Linked DNA regions of Homo sapiens: region 2 is linked to region 1. The links come from fine-mapping of genetic effects on gene expression. Tissue or cell type: whole blood. Region 1 holds a variant in brackets; the other region holds the start of a gene. All regions are shown on one strand. Distances are between the middles of the regions.

Region 1 (5,942 bases):
GGTGCTCTTGTACTTAGGAAATACACAATGAGGTATTAAGGAATAGTGGGGCATTGTATCTACAGCTCATTTTCAACTGGATCAGAAATTGGGGGAAGCTGCACAGAGGGCACTTGTAAGTTCTGTTTACTATTTCTGCAACTTTAATGCAAACTTGAAATTATTTCAAAACATAAAAAGTCAGAAAAGAAATTCTTAGGCTATGAGCCCAGAACAGTGGCGTATTCACCTCCTTCATCCTTCCCTTCACATCTTCCTGCTGAGAAAACGGTTTTCTAACGGTATTAATCTAGATTAGTGGTCCACTGTGGGTTGCCTGGTAACAAAGCCACTATGCCTTATGCATTCCAGCTTTCTGACAACTTAACTTTCAGACCTAATCTCTAGGCAATTTATGATCTACCAAAACATTCAAGGAACAATGAGGCCCAGTGGGTAGTATGTGATTGTTCTTTATAGTTTTAGGAAAAGCAATGACTAAATTAATTCACTGGAGTGTGGGTGGCTAATAATCTGATAATGCCACTGTCAAAAACAGGAGGGGGAGTGGTGGTGGAATCCTCTGAGGGGGAAGAGTTCAGGCAGTGGTAGGATGGGGTAGTTTGAGGAAAGGGACTTCCATAAAGTAAACTGGTTTTGCTTTGAACTTGTAGTCAAATCTGCACATACATTGTTTCTTTTTCTTTCTTTTCTTTTGAGACAGGGTCTCACTACGTTGCCCAGGCTGGAGTGCAGTGGCACAGTCTCGGTTCACTGCAGTCTCGATCTCCCCGGGCTAAGGCAATCTTCCCACCTCAGCCTCCTGAGTAGCTGAGACTATACACGTATGTTGCCATGCCCAGCTAATTTTTGTGTTTTGTAGAGACAGGGTTTTTCTGTGTTGCCCAGGCTGGTCTCAAACTCCTGGGCTCAAGTGATCCTCCTGCCCTGGCCTCCCAAAATGCTGGGATTATAATCATGAGCCACCGTGCCCAGCCATATATCGTTTTTCACTGTTTACCTCTGTCTACTCTTAGTTTCTAAAGCACTCTCCTTTACCTAAATTTAGGATACTATGGTTAAGTATTTGTCAGGGCTTGCTTCCTAAAATCTAACAGTTTTGTTCTTTGCTGCTTGTTGAACAAGACATAACAATGTAGTCACCTAAAGAAATGTAAGATCTTAGAACCTTAGCTGGGTAACCCAAATAGCCTGCATATGCATACACCCTTTGAATCCTCATTTAGTTGAGTCTGCATCCAAAGTTTTAGTTCTGTAGGTTTAGAAATTTGCCATGCCCATTATTTATCATTTCAAATTCATTTCAGGCTTTCATTCTTTTCTCCTCCCTCATCCTAAGGCTTTAATTCTCCACTAAAACTTCTAAAATATTGAGTACTTAGTGTAAACCAGCATTCAAAGCTTAATTCTAAAGGTTTTATGTCTTTACATTCTATATATTAGCTTTTCTTGTGATCTGATGTATCCATTGCTTTCTTCTTTTGTCAGATGTTCAGAGAATTCCAACTTCTTACAAGAACAGATATTTATAAGAAAACAAGGCACATTTTGGAATCCTATTCAGAAAATATACTGACTTCTTTTTCAGTGGTGGACAATCCAATCAATATTGTATTGCAAGAAAAAATGAAACATTACACAGATGAAGACATGTTGAAATGTTAGTAAACCTTATGGAGTGGTGTGATTTCATCTGTTATTTATCAGAATATCTAGAAAAGTTATGCTTTGGTAGTCAGTAAAATTCAGTAGTTTACATTTATTGAGTTTTAAAAATATATTTAAAAATTAAAAATTTACATTACTAAAATATATTTAATAATAATTTTCAATATTTAAGTAATAAGTGAAACAACTGGTGGGGAAAAAAAAGAATTTTTCCAATTAGAGGAGGAGGAGAGGTATAGATTTTAAAAGTATACTGGATATTGTAAAATTATATTTAGGGAACTAGTAACCAGTTAATTTTACAATACAAATCACAAGGGGCAGCATAAATTCTTCCTGGCTGATGGACAGACAGTACAGAACTCTTGTCTTCTGGAAGTGCTCTGGAGGGCAGATACGAGATTTTGAATGTTTTATTAGAAGAGGGTATGGTTTAAAAAGGTGTGAAACATTGATCTAAGAAGGCTAGTTTGTTTTCTGTCCAAGGTAACAAAAAATCCAGATGTTTCAATACTAGCTTAGCTTACAATTGCTAAAAGCTTATTTTTACTTCACATGTTAACATATTTGCTTTGACAGACATGAAGATGACAGCCACATGTTTACTCCTCCCAGATGTTTTTGGGGATGATCCCAGCCTTTTTGTCATCATGAATGAACAGGTATGTAGTATGTGAATGGCCACTAGTTTGACATTTTACATCTTCATGCGATTATTTATATTATTTATTTACTTATATTTTTGAGATGGAGTCTCACTCTTTTGCCCAGGCTGGAGTACAATGGCGTGATCTTGGCTCACTGCAGCCTCCACCTCCTGGTTCAAGCGATTCTCGTGCCTCAGCCTCCCAAGTAGCTGGGATTATAGGCATGCACCACCACGCCCAGCTAATTTTTGTATTTTAGTAGAGACGGGGTTTCACGGTGTTGGTCAGGCTGGTCTGGAACTCCTGACCTCAGGTGATCCACCTGCCTTGGCCTCCCAAAGTGCTGGGATTACAGGCATGAGCTACTGAGCCCAACCGCGATAACTTATTTAAAAGCAAAGTTGGTGGTCTATTTTGAAGTATGTTTGTCATATTTACAAATATGCTACATTGCAACAAGCTGATTTATTGTAATACCATGATTAAGTTCAGATGTTTTATTATTTAGCTATTTTACGTATCATGGTAATGACTCCACTCTTTTTTTCAGGTGCAAGTGTCCACACCTGTGTTGGAAGTTAAAAACCCTTTCAACATGGAGGTCTGCGAATTTTCTTTATATTTAGAAAGGGAGAGGCTCACAAAGGTGGACGACTGTGTTACAGCCTTGGCTGCGCTAGTAGCTGCCTTTCATGTATTTAGGATTGAGTGTCCAAGAAGACTGTCCCAAACTTTCAACTTCCTAGAAACGCTGATTTTCGATATGCACAGTCCTTATTTTCCTTCTTTGAAAGAAAAGGAAAACGAAGTAGGATTTCAGCACCCACTCACTTAATAGCATGCCAAATATTGTACTGGAATTTACCTCTGGGAAAACTGAAGCTTCATAAGAAATTGTTTTGATTTAGGGTTGTGGTAGAGGTAGGTATGAGAAAATCATCTTGTATTTA[T/C]AGATGCTAATGAATTTCAATGCTTTCTATCTTTACACTTAGATATTAAGTTCTTTGTGAAATTCTGTAATAAAATTCTACTTCATTAAAGAGCTGTCGATTTATTTTGAGTTTTTAGAAATTCCGCAGTTAAGTTATATTTTCAGAGGTGCCTCAGTTTTTTTGAAATACACTGTACTCAAATCCTTCAGGTTAGAGAATGGCCTTGGACTGAATTCAGCATGCCCACTTAATGCACAGGAGCTGCACATTTATGGCCTGTGGGCTGTCTCTTTGGTCTGAACATCACTTGGGAACATTTTGAACTTGCATTGAACATTTCAAGAAGGGACACATACTCTTCTCTCCCTCAGGGGATCTGCCTTGCCCCAGGAGATCTGGTTGTCTTTAATCGCTTGTTGAGAATAAGGGCTGCGGCATTTTTGAGGTCTCCTCATTGCTGGCTGATCTTGCTGGTACAGGTCCTGATGTCTGTGACCTGTGTTCATCTGCTACTGCTTCTCGCCTTGGAAACACAGTGACTCATCCTGCATGCCCAACTGGCTACTGCCCAGAGTCCAGTTCTATCTGTTCTGCTCTTAACAATGGCTGCATAAGTACTTTTTGGGTCTAACAAGACTCAGTGCACTCTCCCTCTTTCCAACTATTTCACAAGGTAAGAACTATAGTTTAAGGTGCCCCTTGATGTTATTATCAAAATATCAACATGACTTATTAGCTTTGGAAGATAGACCAGGGCCTTTTGGGAACAGAAAAGGGATTTAAGTGTGTTAAAAATACCTACACAGCATGGTGGGATGAACATTTCCTGGGTTACATGTTCAAATTAATTTTTTTTTAAGTTTAAGAAAGGCTCATGTGGGCCGGGCACGGTGGCTCACACCTGTAATCCTGGCACTTTGGGAGGCCAAGATGGGCAGATCACCTGAGGTCAGGAGTTCGAGACCAGCCTGGCTAATAATGTGAAACGCTGTCTCTACTAAAAAAACAAATTAGCCGGGTGTGGTAGCACATGCCTGTAGTCCCAGCTACTTGGGAGGCTGAGGCAGGAGAACTGCTTGAACCTGGGAGGCGGAGGTTGCAGTGAGCCAAGATCATGCAATTGTACTCCAGCCTGGGCAACAGAATGAGACTGTGTCTCAACAAACAAACAAACAAAAACAAAAGAAAGGTTCATGCAAACTATTGAAGAAATAGTTTTACACTACCCATCTCTGGAAATAACTGCAAAATATTTATTCTATCACTGAAATGACAACAGCCTGCTAGATATCTTTCTCTCTCTAAGGACTGTTCATTAAAACGCTAAAGCCAGTGAGATAAAAGAAGTCAAAGAACAGTTGCCCATTTCTACAATCACTATTAATTAACTACTTACATCAAAACACAGGCAGAGTAAGTAACAATTTGGCACAAGTCATTTTGCCTAACCTAGTTCCTATCCTCCAGTAATCATTTCTTCCCTTTCATTAGAATGTACCTTTAGTTCCTTACAAACTTTCCTTTATTTCCCCAAATTACTCCTTCTTCCTTTTAGTCCTTTATTCCCAAATAAACTTACCAAGTTCTTACAGATTCTTTTCCTTATAAGGTATACATCCCTATGGCTGAAGTTGAATGACAGCCTCTCTCAGGCCATGACAGGATGACAAGGTGAGCTACAAGGAAACTGCAGTGAAGTTTGGCTCCAAGCATGACACAGACATGGGCTGACCTTGAAGGTAGATTCAAGCCCATTTTATTGTCTTTCTCAATGGTGTATCTATCCCCAGTGCCCAGCACATCCTGACACTTGCTAAATTCAACACTGCTTGACCAACATACCCTATTTTATTTAGGGGCTGAGTCTACTGAATCTAGAAGTTGCAGAATGGCAGCCTGAGGACAAATATCAACCTGCACAAAGGTTGTATTTGGCTTGCGCAGTGTTTTCAATTTTTTAAAAAAAATGCCTTTAGATGGGAAGGTCCTATCAAGGTCTATATTTTCTATTCCTCCCTTTTCTCTCTTTTATTTTTATTTTTTTGAGATGGGGTCTTGCTATGTTGCCCAGGCTGGTCTCGAAATCCTTGGGCTCAAGAGATCCTCCTGCCTCAGCCTCCTGAGTAGCTGGGATTACAGGGTTGAGCCACTGAGCTTGGCTTCCACCGTCTGTCTTACCCCAAGCCTGCATCTCTCACTTCAGAGATCTCCCTACAATCATGGTGCCCTATATTCTCTGTTAAAACTTAGACTATATCCCAGGGATGGAGTGGTGAGAGTTTTCACCTTCTTGAGGTACAGTGAATTCCTCACCACCCTACAGATGCTTAATGCCTTGCCTCTAACATGTAACAACATGTTGCATAGAATGAGTGGATGTCTTCAATAAGATTTTAAAAATTGCCCGGGAGTGGTGGCTCATGCCTGTAATCCCAGCACTTTGGGAGGCTGAGGCAGGCAGATGACCTGAGGTCAGGAGTTCAAGACCAGCCTGGCCAACACGGCAAAACCCCATCTCTACTAAAAATACCAAAATTAGCCAGCCGTGGTGGCGGGTACCTGTAATCCCAGCTACTCAGGAGGCTGAGGCAGGAGAATCACTTGAACCCAGGAGGCAGAGGTTGCAGTGAGCCGACAGTGCACCACTGCACTCCAGCCTGGGGGACAGAGAGAGACTCTGTCTCCAAAAAAAAAA
Region 2 (5,942 bases), 78 kb before region 1:
GAAGAGAATAACTGGATGAGATAACTCAACAAGTGATCACATCAATTAGATAAGAAGGGTGATGTGATCAGAAGACAATGGAGCCAGGATTAAGCCAACATCAGGCTGACCCCTCAATTTCCTTAGGCGTCTCTCCTTAGCACTTTACCAGGAATAGGTGCCCAGGCAAGCATTTTTCAAGCTTCCAAATGCCAAGGAGTTTGAAATGACAAGTTAGTTTTTGGCCTGGTTATAGAAATACTGAATTTTCTCATATCTTAAGCTTTTTGGATGACCTAATATATGAATAAATATTTTTCCTCTTCTTCCAACTACTCTCACCTTTATATTGGTGTGCCACATTTGTTCCCATATGTAATCAAAGAATGGTAGAAGTGAGTAGGCAGCAGTTAAGATTGGAATGTAAGGATTTTTAAAAATAAGTTTACCTTGGAACAATCTAAAGAGGAAAGCTATGTGCTATTATAATCCTTACAGTCTTTATTTCTAATATGCCTATCTTACTGAAACTGATCCAGTAGTCCCATAGACAGTTTTTCTTAAATATAGAAATTAATCCTTCTGGTTTTAAAGCTTGAAACTCACCAGATCCAGACAATGAGATACCAGCCTCTCATTCATTGTAATTGCTCCCTTACTCCTTCCACATTCTTGTTTTCCCATACATATTTAACATTTCTTCCCCGCTATATAAACCTCTAATTTTAGTTGATCAGGAAGATGGATTTGAGACTGAGCTCCCATTTCCTGGACTGCAGCACCTGATTAAAGCCTTCTTCCTTGGCAATACTTGTTGTCTCAGTCGTTGGCTTTCTGTGCAGCAAATAGCAGGACCTAAACTGAACCCCTGGTGTTTCAGTAACATTATTTTTTACTTGTTAATCATTCACATAACCTTTTCCTCTCCTCCTTACTTTCTTCCCCATGCTCACTCACTCTCTTGCTCAGTACTGCTCTCTGTCTCTGTCTGTCTCTCTTTATCTCTCTCTAACACACACACATACACACAAATTCAGACACACAGACTCATATTTAATGATGGACTATAGCCTACCAATTGGTATGAATTTTACCTTTTGGGCCAACTCTAAAAAGAGTGCTTCGGGCTGGGCGTGGTGACTCATGCCTGTAATCTCAGCACTTTAGGAGGCCGAGGCAGGCGGTTCATGAGGTCAGGAGATCGAGATCATCCTGGCTAACACAGTGAAACCCCATCTCTACTAAAAATACAAAAACTTAGCTGGGCGTGGTGGCACGTGCCTGTAGTCCCAGATACTCAGGAGGCTGAGGCAGGAGAATCGCTTAAACCCAGGAGGTGGAAGTTGCAGTGAGCTGAGATCGTGCCATTACACTCCAGCCTGGGTGACAAAGGGAGACTCCATCTCAAAAATAATAATAATAATAATAATAATAATAATAATAATAATAAATAAATAGAGTGCTTTTGCATAAACAAAAGTTTGAACATTCTGGCCCGTCCTCACATGAACCTAGGGCTGGCAGAAGCATGAGCATTTGTCACTCATGAGAAACACAGGGTCCTATGCCTTTTTGTGTCTCCACACCTCCCATCTGTGCTTTGCTTTTGATACGGGAGGCGGGCAGGGAAGTGCTGGGTAGAGAAGAATGGGGTCCCTGGCTAGGGCTCCACCCTCAGGCCTGTACCCATGGACGTAAGTGAGAACAGGCACTCCTGTTTTCACGCCCAAATGTTGCATTTTCCAAAAGCACTCTGGCCCGCCACACCCCCATCCTCTGCCTATAAAAACCCTGAGACCCTAGCGGGCACAGACACAAGCGGCTGGACATCAAGAGGAACACACTGGCAGAATACACTGACAGACTGGCAGGACATCAACAGCAGTATGATGTGGACCACGTAGAATTTGCCTGGGGGTGGTTGGAGGAGAGTCAGGCCACTGAGCGGCCTGACTCCAGGGGAAGACCGCCTTCCCATTCCATTCCCCTTGTGGATCCCATCCATCTGCTGAGAGCTACTTCCACCAGTCAATAAAACTGTGCACCCATTCTCCAAGCCTACATGTGATTCAATTTTTCTGGTACATTAAGGCAAGAACCTTGGGATACAGAAAGCCCTCTGTCCTTGCGATAAGGCAGAGGATCTAATTGAGCTGATTAACACAAGCCACCTGCGGATGGCTAAGCTGAAAGACTGCACTGTAACACACTCCCACTGGGGCTTCTGGAGCTGTAAACACTCAACCCTAGGTGCTGCCATGGGGTAGGAGCCCATGCTCCCCATGACCTGCCCGTCTGCATGCTCCCTCTAGGGGTTTGAGCTGCAGGGTACTGAAGAAGCGAGTCACACCCATCGCACGCCCTGCAAGGGTGTTTCCAAGTTTCACTTTGAGTCACACTGCATTAAGAAGATCCACTACCTTGCATCCCCTTCTTCCTGAAGAGGCCTACAAAGTCAGACCAGCACTTAGTGTTAACAGATCAAGAGAGCCCAGCTTGACTCTACCAGCTGAGCAATATAGGTGGATACAGAAGTCACCTTTCATGTGTTCTAACAAATGAGTAACTCCAAAAAAATAGTTGTAATATTTTAATAATGTAAGTTCTTGCCACTACTCAGAGCTATAAAATGTTCAGCTATCACCTGCACTATCACGTACACACTGAGCTATGTAACGAGAATTACATTCAGCCAATGTCTGCTAAATAAAGGTTTGTGCATTTTAGTTCAATGATGTAGCTACAAAGAAAATGAAGCCTCAAGACACTAGAACCTTCTGAGATGCAAAGCTTTGAGTCCTTGACTTTGAATTCAATGTCTAAATTCTAATACATTATTATTATATCTGCCTTAAGATTGATATAGGAAATTTTTTTTCTAGTTAGTGTTATTTCTTCTAGGAGCTTAAAAAAGGTAACTAAGGAAGAATTAAATGTTCCAAAGATATATTATGGTAAACATGTATGTACATACATGGGTATTTGTCACACTTGTCAGAATCTTCTTCCTTTGAGAGGTGCAAACGTTAGCTGTCTGAGATCCACCCTGTTTCAAACTTACCTTATGCTTCCTGTGTACTGTGAGGCTCCCAGTCTTGCTGTCTTTCAATGGGGCAGCCACTGCTCAGTTGCTGCCATTCAGAAATATGAACCCAGTATCACCAGAACTTTTGATTTTTCAAGAGAAACCAAGATTCCAGATTTGTAGGTGATATCTTCCATTTTTCAGATAAAACAAAGGAACCAGAACCACATCCACTGATCGGATTTGCCTGGGGAGGAGGGGTGCTCTCTCCTTTGATCTTCTCTTCTGGAAGAGATGGACCAAAAGCCTCTCCAGCAATAATCCGTAAATATCACTTTTTACCTTTTCTCTATAAAACTCTAACTTTTCTGATATTAAGATAAAATTCTTTCATTGAGAAAAATTTAAGAGTGGCAGATTACAAACAAAAAACATTAATTCCTCCAAACAGAGATTGCCACTTCTGCCTTCTAGTATATGCTTTCCCAGCCTTTGTGTAACCAAGCATTTCATTCTACTTTTATTTTATTCTTTCCACAAATCTGAATCATACTATTTTAAATTTATTTGCAGTTAACCATATCCATGACTGTTTCTCTCTACATAGTTATTTGTCTAGATACAATTTTTGATTACTACATAGTATTTTATTTTAAATATAAATTACTGTAATTCATTGGCCAATTCCTATTGCTGGAAATTTTATCTGTCCAATTTATTTGCTATTCGGACCATTGCTATGGCACACATCTTTGTGTTCATTTCTGTTAATGTCTTTAGGCACATTCTTAGAAATGCTATTTTGGGGTCAGAATGTAGAAATATTTTTAATGTTTTTGGCTTGCATTAGTACCCTTTAAAGTTGGATAGATTGGATTCAAATCACTTTTACCTTTACAAGCAAAGGAACCTTAGGCGAGTTACCCTGTAAACTCCAGGACTTTCAATTATAAAATGGGAATAATATGACAGGGCAAGTTGTGCCACTTTATACTCCCCTTAGCAGTGTGTAAGAGAACAACTGACCTTGCATTCTTGCTAATTTTCACCTTTTCCAATGGAATAAATGAAGATGGTATTTAATTATTTTTATTACAAATAATGTAGATTTTTCAGATACTGGTTTAAAATTTTGTTCAAGAGTTACCTATTCCTATTTTTTTCTATTGGTGTATTAATTTTTTAGTTGGTTTTATGGATTATAGAGTTGACCCTTGAACAACATGTGTTGGAACCTCTCAGGTCCACTTACATGCAGATTTTCTTCTGCCTCTGCCACCCCTGAGACAGCAAGACCAACTCTCCTCTTCCTCCTCCTCCTCCTCAGCCTACTCACTGCAAGACGACGAGTATGAAGATCTTTATGATGATCCACTTCCATGTAATAAATAGTAAATGTTTTCTCTTCCTTGTTATTTGCTTAATAACATTTTCTTTCCTCTAACTCATTTTATTGTAACAGTACTGTATATAATATATATAACATACAAAATATGTGTTAATTGTCTATGTTATCAGTTAAGATTCTGATCAATAGTAGGCTATTAGTAGTTAAGTTTGGGGGTAGTCAAAAGTTACTTGCAAATTTTCAACTGCATAGCAGAGTCAGCGTCCCAACCCCTGTGTCGTTCAAGGGTCCACTGTGATATATATGTGTACACATGCGTTTTTCCTTTTTAGTCAAATCTATCAATATTTTATTTTTATTATGTAATCTTAGATTATTTTAAACTCTTTTTAATTTTTCATATTTACATATTTAACTTATCTGAGGAATTTATTGTGTAGGTGTTATGAGGCATTATCCCAACAAAATATATTGACTAATCCCTTCTTTGTCACCAATTTTAAAGATCTTTTCACTGGCTGGGCGTGGTGGCTCATGCCTGTAATCCCAGCACTTTGGGAGGCCAAGGTGGGCAGATCACAAGGTCAGGAGATCGAGACCATCCTGGCTAACACAGTGAAACCCCGTCTCTACTAAAAACACAAAAAAATTAGCTGGGCGTGGTGGTGGGCACCCGTAGTCCCAGCTACTCGGGAGGTTGAGGCAGGAGAATGGCATGAACCCGGGAGGCGGAGCTTGCAGTGAGCCGAGATCGTGCCACTGCACTCCAGCCTGGGCAACAGAGCGAGACTGTCAAAAAAAAAAAAAGATATTTTCAGTACTTCCATATGAATGTTTCTGTTTCTAAGTTTCTATTCTGTTTCAATATCTGTTCTCTTTTCCTCCAGTACCATGCTGTTAATAGCATAACATTTTTTAACATCTGGAAGTGCAAGTCCTTTTGTCAAGCATTTTTCGTTCTTTTTACCTATTTATTCTTCCACATGAAAACTAGCCTCATAGTAAGTAAAACATATAACCACGTATGTATATTAATTGGAATTTATAAATTAATTCTGAGGGAAATGACATCTTCAAACTATCAAGACTTCTCAGTCACACATCCAGCTTTTCATAAAATTCAATAGCACAGTTCACAGTTACCATCTCTGGCAGGACTGTAATCTGTGTTGCTGAACCATAAGCTTTGGCTGTCAACGAGGCAGAAGCAGGGATAAACCATAAGTTTGACTCAAAGGCCAAAACACTAGGGTGTTTGTGACTCAAAAGTTCCAAAGTTCTGGGACTCTGGCTCATTGCTATTTTTGTTCATTAATTTAACTAAACCTCCCAGATAAGTGGCTCTTTAGTTTCTTTGAAAATGTAAAAATTGGCCAGGCTAGTGGCTCACACCTGTAATCCCAGCACTCTGGGGGGCCGAGGCAGGTGGATCACAAGCTCAGCAGTTCGAGACCAACCTGGCCAACATGGTGAAACCCCATTTCCACTAAATATACAAAAATTAGCCTGGCATGGTGGCACGCGTCTGTAATCCCAGCTACTCAGGAGGCTGAGGCAAAAGAATGGCTTGAATCCGGGAGGTGGAGGTTG

What was found. PIP is the estimated chance that this variant, and not a neighbour inherited with it, causes the effect.
Region 2: SAMD3 starts here. The variant in region 1 is fine-mapped to the expression of SAMD3 in whole blood (TOPMed, PIP above 0.99).

What each region holds. Positions count from the first base shown.
Region 1 is chr6:130,141,728-130,147,669 of GRCh38, reverse strand. It overlaps SAMD3 (sterile alpha motif domain containing 3), which reads left to right. Exons shown (of 12, transcript NM_001017373.4): 10 at 1,489-1,660; 11 at 2,248-2,330; 12 at 2,866-3,355. The coding sequence ends at 3,150. Among named protein-coding and RNA genes, the nearest start is that of SAMD3, 78 kb to the left of the region's middle. The variant T/C (reference allele first, on the strand shown) is at 3,266.
Region 2 is chr6:130,220,080-130,226,021 of GRCh38, reverse strand. SAMD3 (sterile alpha motif domain containing 3) reads left to right here and starts at 3,071. Exons shown (of 12, transcript NM_001017373.4): 1 at 3,071-3,328. RefSeq lists an enhancer at 2,355-2,464.